Regions from separate parts of the Homo sapiens genome. Here region 1 is linked to region 2. Evidence: fine-mapped expression QTL. A gene starts in region 2. The other region holds a variant in brackets. All regions are shown on one strand. Distances are between the middles of the regions. Region 1 overlaps ATL3 (atlastin GTPase 3). Region 2 holds the start of SPINDOC (spindlin interactor and repressor of chromatin binding).

Region 1 (2,905 bases), 180 kb after region 2:
TTAAATTACTTGAGTTGACCTGTATACAATAAGCAGAGTTCTTTAGGAAGAGAATGCACTTTTTCTCCTTTTTCATCATGCTGAGGTCTGTTAATTTTTTTTTAGCACATTTTGCAGTAGTGTGGCGACCTTTTCTAGTTCACTTGTTTGTATTCATGGTGGTACAGTTAAAACGAAATGGCCTCTCCTCACTGGGCCTAGTCTTTTCACCAAACACACTTTGGGAAGCACAGTTTATTATACGTGGTTGAAACATACCCACCATGTTAGACAAGCAAGTTCTTGTCATCTGTTGTTTATTTTTTTTATTTTTATATAATTTCTAATTTATTATTTTTTTGAGACAAGAGTCTCACTCTTGCCAAGGCTGGAGTGCAGTGGCACAATCTTGGCTCACCGCAACCTCCACCTCCTGGGTTCAAGTGATTCTTATACCTCAGCCTCCCGAGTAGCTGGGATTATAGGCATGTACCACCATGCCTGGCTAATTTTTGTATTTTTTAATAGAGATCGGTTTAGCCATGTTGCCCAGGCTGGTCTCCAACTCCTGGACTCAAGCAATCCGACCGTCTTGGCCTCCCAAAGTGCTGGGATTATAGGGGTGAGCCACCATGCCTGGCTATAATTTTTTTAATTAAAAGAAAAAAATAGGGATGTGGTCTTGCTGTGTCGCCCAGGCTGGTCTCAAACTTGGCTCAAGCGATGTGCCTGCCTCAGCTTCCCGAAGTGCTAAGATTACAGGTGTAAGCCACTGTGCCTGACCTGTTATTTACTTTAGTGGAACATGTCCTGACACACCTGTTTACTATTCACTAATCAGGTTTTTAATTTGCAACTAGAATGTCATTTGGTTAAAACATAATTTTTGACTTTCATATGTTGAACATAAGGGGATTTATTGCCAAGTGTTGATTTATTTTGTAGCAGAAAATTTTCATAAAGGGAGCTAGAGCCTGGGATTGACATTGCAAATAATTTTTTCCTTTTTTTTTTTGAGGTGGAATCTTGCTCTGTTGCCCAGGCTGGAGTGCAGTGGCACAATCTCGGCTCACTGCAAGCTCCACCTCCTGGGTTCACGCCATTCTCCTGCCTCAGCCTCCCGAGTAGCTGGGACTGCAGGCGCCTGCCACCACGCCCGGCTAATTTCTTTGTATTTTTAGTAGAGACAGGGTTTCACCGTGTTAGCCAGGATGATCTCGATCTCCTGACCTCGTGATCTGCCCGCCTCAGCCTCCCAAAGTGCTGGGATTACAGGCGTGAGTCACCGCGCCCAGCCCCCTTTTTTTTCTTCTTCTT[CTTT/T]TTTTTTTTTTTTTTTAAATAGAAACAGGATCTAGCTGTGTTGAGCAGGCTGGTGTTGAATTCTTGGACTCAAGTGATCCTCCCACCTCAGCCTCTCAAAGTGCTGGGATTACAGGCGTAAGCCACCACACCCGGCTTTTTCCTTTTTTTTTTTTTTTTTTTTGTTTGAGACAGAGTCTTGCTCTATTGCTCAGGCTGGAGTGCAGTGGCGTGATCTCGGCTCACTGCAACCTCTACCTCCTGGGTTCAAGTAGTTCTCCTGCCTCAGCCTCCTGAGTAGCTGGGACTACAGGCGCACATCACCACGCCTGGCTAATTTTTTTGTGTTTTTGGTAGAGATGGGGTTTCAACATGTTGGCCAGGCTGGTCTTGAACTCCTGACCTTATGATCCGCCAGCCTCGGCCTCCCAAAGTGCCAAAGTGCTGGGATTACAGGCGTGAGCCACCACGCCCAACCTTTCCTTCTTCTTTTTTTTTTTTTTTTGACTCACATCTATTTCTTAAAGTTGGAGCAATGGAGCCAGGTGTGGTGGCTTACTCCTGTAATCCCAGCACTTTGGGAGGCTGAGGTGGGCAGATCACTTGAGCCTGGGAGTTCAACATCAGCTTGGGCAATATAGGGAGACTCTAGCTCTGCAAAACAAAAACTTAAAAAGTTAGCCAAGCGTGGTGGCACGCACTGGCAGGAGGATGGCTTGCATTCAGGAGGCGAAGGTTGTAGTGTGCTGAGATTACCACTGAACTCCAGCCTGGGTGACAGAGTGAGGCTCTGTCTTAAAAAAAAAGAAAAATTTAAACAATTAAAAAATAAATTGATGCAATGGAAATAATATTTTCCTTGAATTTTGGAGATTTAATTTTTGCTAAAGATTCTTATGTATAAGAATACATATTTCTATGTATATGAACTTCTACCTTTTTTTGGTAGAAAATTTGGCAGAAAAAGTGTATTCTATTTCATCAGTTGAACTATATGGAAATCTAGAAAAATAGAAGGTTAATAAAAAAGGAAGAATGGGGAATAGAGAAGATTTTTGTTAGGTTATTTGTGGAGGAATGTTAAAAGAGGAAGGATTTACAGTTCACGTTTTTCTCTCTTAAAAGGCCACTGCTGAAGCCAACAACTTAGCAGCTGCAGCCTCTGCCAAGGACATTTATTATAACAACATGGAAGAGGTACGTGGGACATACGCCTTATTCTGAAATATCTATAATCTGGGCATTGTTGCTGACTTCAAAAGCCCAACTTGATCCTACTTAATGTATCTTTAAGTGATGAGGCAATAAACTTATATTCAGGTTGTCCTGGTAACGGGGGCCTTCTAATTATTACCATTTCTTTGTTTGTTTGTTTGTTCTTGTTTTGTTTTGTTTTGTTTTGAATAGCAAATAGTTTATTGGTAAGTACATAGTTTCAATGGGAGTAATAAATTCACATGAGCAGGAGACAATAATCAAGTCAAAAGAATAAATGCTTACTAATCATCAGAAAATCTGTGGCCATTAAGGCTGGCACATAAAAATCCAAAATCACTCAGAGGCCGAATCTTAAAAGAAGATTCGTCCTCTTATTAGTTCATATGGAATAGGTCCATAGTAACTGGAA
Region 2 (2,905 bases):
GTCTTTAGCCATTGGTATATATATGTTCTTCAAGAGCAGGGTTTCGGTTGCTCTGTTTACTACTACTTCCCAGCCTAAAAACACTAGCCTAAACAGCCTAAAGTAGACGTCCAGTGAATATTGGTTGAATGAATTCACCTGTCTATTCCTGCCCTAACAGTGGGGATAAGGCCACCCTTGCAGGGTTGAGAGGATTAACTGAGACAGCCTCTGACAATGCCCAATGAACACTCAACAAATATTAGCAGAAGTAGGAAAACAACCTATCTTTTGGACTAAATGCTCCGAGAAGGGAGGTGACCTTTATTTCCCTCATGAATTTTATAACCCTTCCAGTTCCAAAAAGGATGACAGGCAGTGCAGGCAGACATCATTCTGTTCGGCTGAAGTTCAATGAATGGCATTGCTGCTCTCAACCTCTTTTGGGTACTATCCCGCCTAAGAAAAGCGGGGTGGGAGAATGGAAATATATTTGCATTTTCATGCATATTAAGTCTCCCACAAAGATGGCTCTTTGTTTTCTTACGGTTTGCAAGCTCCTGAGGACTAGAAATCGGTGAAGGGGGAGGGGAGAGCGAGTGTTCTGAGATTGTTCCTCCCATCCCCTCCCAAAGCTAATCTCGTTCTAGCACTGCACTGCTTTTCCAAACTAGCTGTTGTATGCAGTCCCATTCATCCCTTCTCTCCAGAACTTGACACCTGTGGCTCCTGCAAGTGGAAGGCCCGGGAATGGGAATGAAGCGGGGTGGTGGGCAGGGAAGCGTTATGCTCGGAGAGCCCTTAAAATTCTCCTGGAGGTCGGCAGCGGCGCCCGCCTGTAGCCTCCGGCCTAGAGGCTTCGCCGCCCCTCGGACTAGAACACAGCCCGGCCGTTGTGCTTGCCTCCCCTTCCCAGGCTGTGAGACGGCGGCCGCAACCACCCAGCGCCTCTGGGGATCCGGCCTCTGGTGCTGGGCCCGGGAGAGGGGGCGCTTGGGCACCGGAAGATCCGGAGCGTGCGGGGCGTGGATCGAAGTCTCCAGACCCTGGGCGGGGGAAAGGGGAAGGGAGGGGGAAATCGAGGAGGCCTGAGCTTCTAAACCATGGTGGGGGAGGTGCAAGAGCGCGCCCTGGACCCAGATCCGAGAGGGAAACCTGGGCCCCAAGGCTGAAGGGGGTGAGAAGGTGCCCGGGTCCCGGACCCCGACTGGGGAGGGACGGCCCCAGCCCCGGCCCCGCACCGTGACGCGGAAGTGGAATCCCCTCCATCCTCACCTCTGAGCATCGGCTCGGGCCGCGGAATTACGGCCACCACCATGGCCTCCTCCTCGTCCTCCCCTTCCTCGCATTTCAGCGTCACCTCGAAGCAGTCGAGTGCGGCGCCCTCGGCCTTTAGGGCCATGGTGCGGCCGTGGGCGATAGCAGTGGCCGGAGGACTGGCGCGCAGGCTTCGGCGCGCAGCCGGCAACCGCCTCCCGCCTCCTGGCCGGAATAGCGCCGGGCCCGCCGCCCGCCCCGCGCAGCCCCCTCCCCGCCGCCCGCCCGCCGCTCGCCGGCCGGGCCTGCGACCGGCGCGTCCGGGCCTCCCCGAGACCTCGGCGCGTCGGGAGCCCGGGCGGGGAGGGCTCAATCCGGGGCCCCTGCCCCCCGCCGCTCCCTTTTATGGAGGCTCATTGTCGGCGCCCGCCCGGCCGGCCAGCCGCGGACCCGCCCCCGATGCCGCGCGGCCAATCGCGCGTGGCCCCGCCCCGGGCACGCGGCCCCGTTAGAAACCCTGGACCCGGGAGGCGGCGGGAAGGGCCGAGGGGACCCGGGGCCACCCGGTGCGCAGAGGCAGAGGGGCCCCCAAAACCCGCAACGCGGGCCCCTCAGTCTGCGGGCCAAGCCCGGGGTTTCCCTCCATTAAGAAGTCAGTTGGGCGTTTCTGCTGGCGTGGAGAGCGCTACCAGGTGCCCCCGGATTTTGATCGGGAGTCGCTTTTGCCTTTCCGTGGACAAGCCTTCCTCCGCCAGCAGATGCCCCGGGCAGGAAGAGAAGCGGTGGGTGAGTGGAAAGGGCCTTGGTATGGAAACGCAGAGACCGAATTCCTTCTCATCTGCCAGCTCCGTGGCCGTGGGCACATTATCTGTTTTCTTAGTCCGGCTCATCGTTTCTTTCAAAAACCATTTTGGACCCTTCTGGGAAGGCAAAGAAGAGAAGCAGAGTGGACTGTGAGCGGACATAAACCACCCTGATGGGTATGATTTCCATTTTTGGCACGGGAGTCCGGAGATTTTGTGACCCTCTCCAAGGACACACAGCAATCCCTTGAGAGCCCCAAGACCAGAGTCCAGTTGCCATGACATTGCTGCCCTATAACCACACTCTGGGTGAGCTTTTACTTCTGTGACATGGAATGTGCATCTCCCTCTTCTATAGCAACCCTCATGAGATTTCAGCTCAGAAAATGCAAAATGTCTGACACTGAAAATCCATCTTCGAATGTCGTTATATCAGACCAGACACAGTAGTATTCAGAATCGCGTAGTAGGATGGGGGTGTGAGAAGAGGTGTGAACTAGTCTATATGGATTGCAGTCAATTTTTTAATTTTTTTTTTTTTGAGACAGAGTCTCGCTCTGTCACCAGGCTGGAGTGCAGTGGCGCTATCTCGGCTCACCACAACCTCCGCCTCCCAGGTTCAAGCTATTCTCCCGCCTCAGCCTCCTGGGTAGCTGGGACTACAGGCACGTGCCACCATGCCCGGCTAATTTTTGTATTTTTAGTAGAGACGGGGTTTCAGCATGTTGGCCAGGATGGTCTTGATCTCTTGACCTCATCATCCGTCTGCCTCGGCCTCCCAAAGTGGGATTACAGGCGTGAGCCACCGCGCCTGGCCTTGCAGTCTATTTTTAAGGGAATTATTTTGTTATGTGCAAGTGTATCTG

The links.
Region 1: its variant is fine-mapped to the expression of SPINDOC in whole blood (INTERVAL, PIP above 0.99).

What each region holds. Positions count from the first base shown.
Region 1 is chr11:63,632,596-63,635,500 of GRCh38, reverse strand. ATL3 (atlastin GTPase 3) reads left to right here. Exons shown (of 13, transcript NM_015459.5): 11 at 2,404-2,475. The region is part of intron 1 of LNCROPM (lncRNA regulator of PLAAT3 mediated phospholipid metabolism); the gene reads right to left. It also overlaps the pseudogene IMMP1LP1. Among named protein-coding and RNA genes, the nearest start is that of LNCROPM, 18 kb to the right of the region's middle. The variant CTTT/T (reference allele first, on the strand shown) is at 1,297.
Region 2 is chr11:63,812,163-63,815,067 of GRCh38, reverse strand. It overlaps SPINDOC (spindlin interactor and repressor of chromatin binding), which reads right to left and starts at 1,612. Exons shown (of 6, transcript NM_138471.3): 1 at 1,255-1,612. The coding sequence starts at 1,381. RefSeq lists a silencer at 1,507-1,976.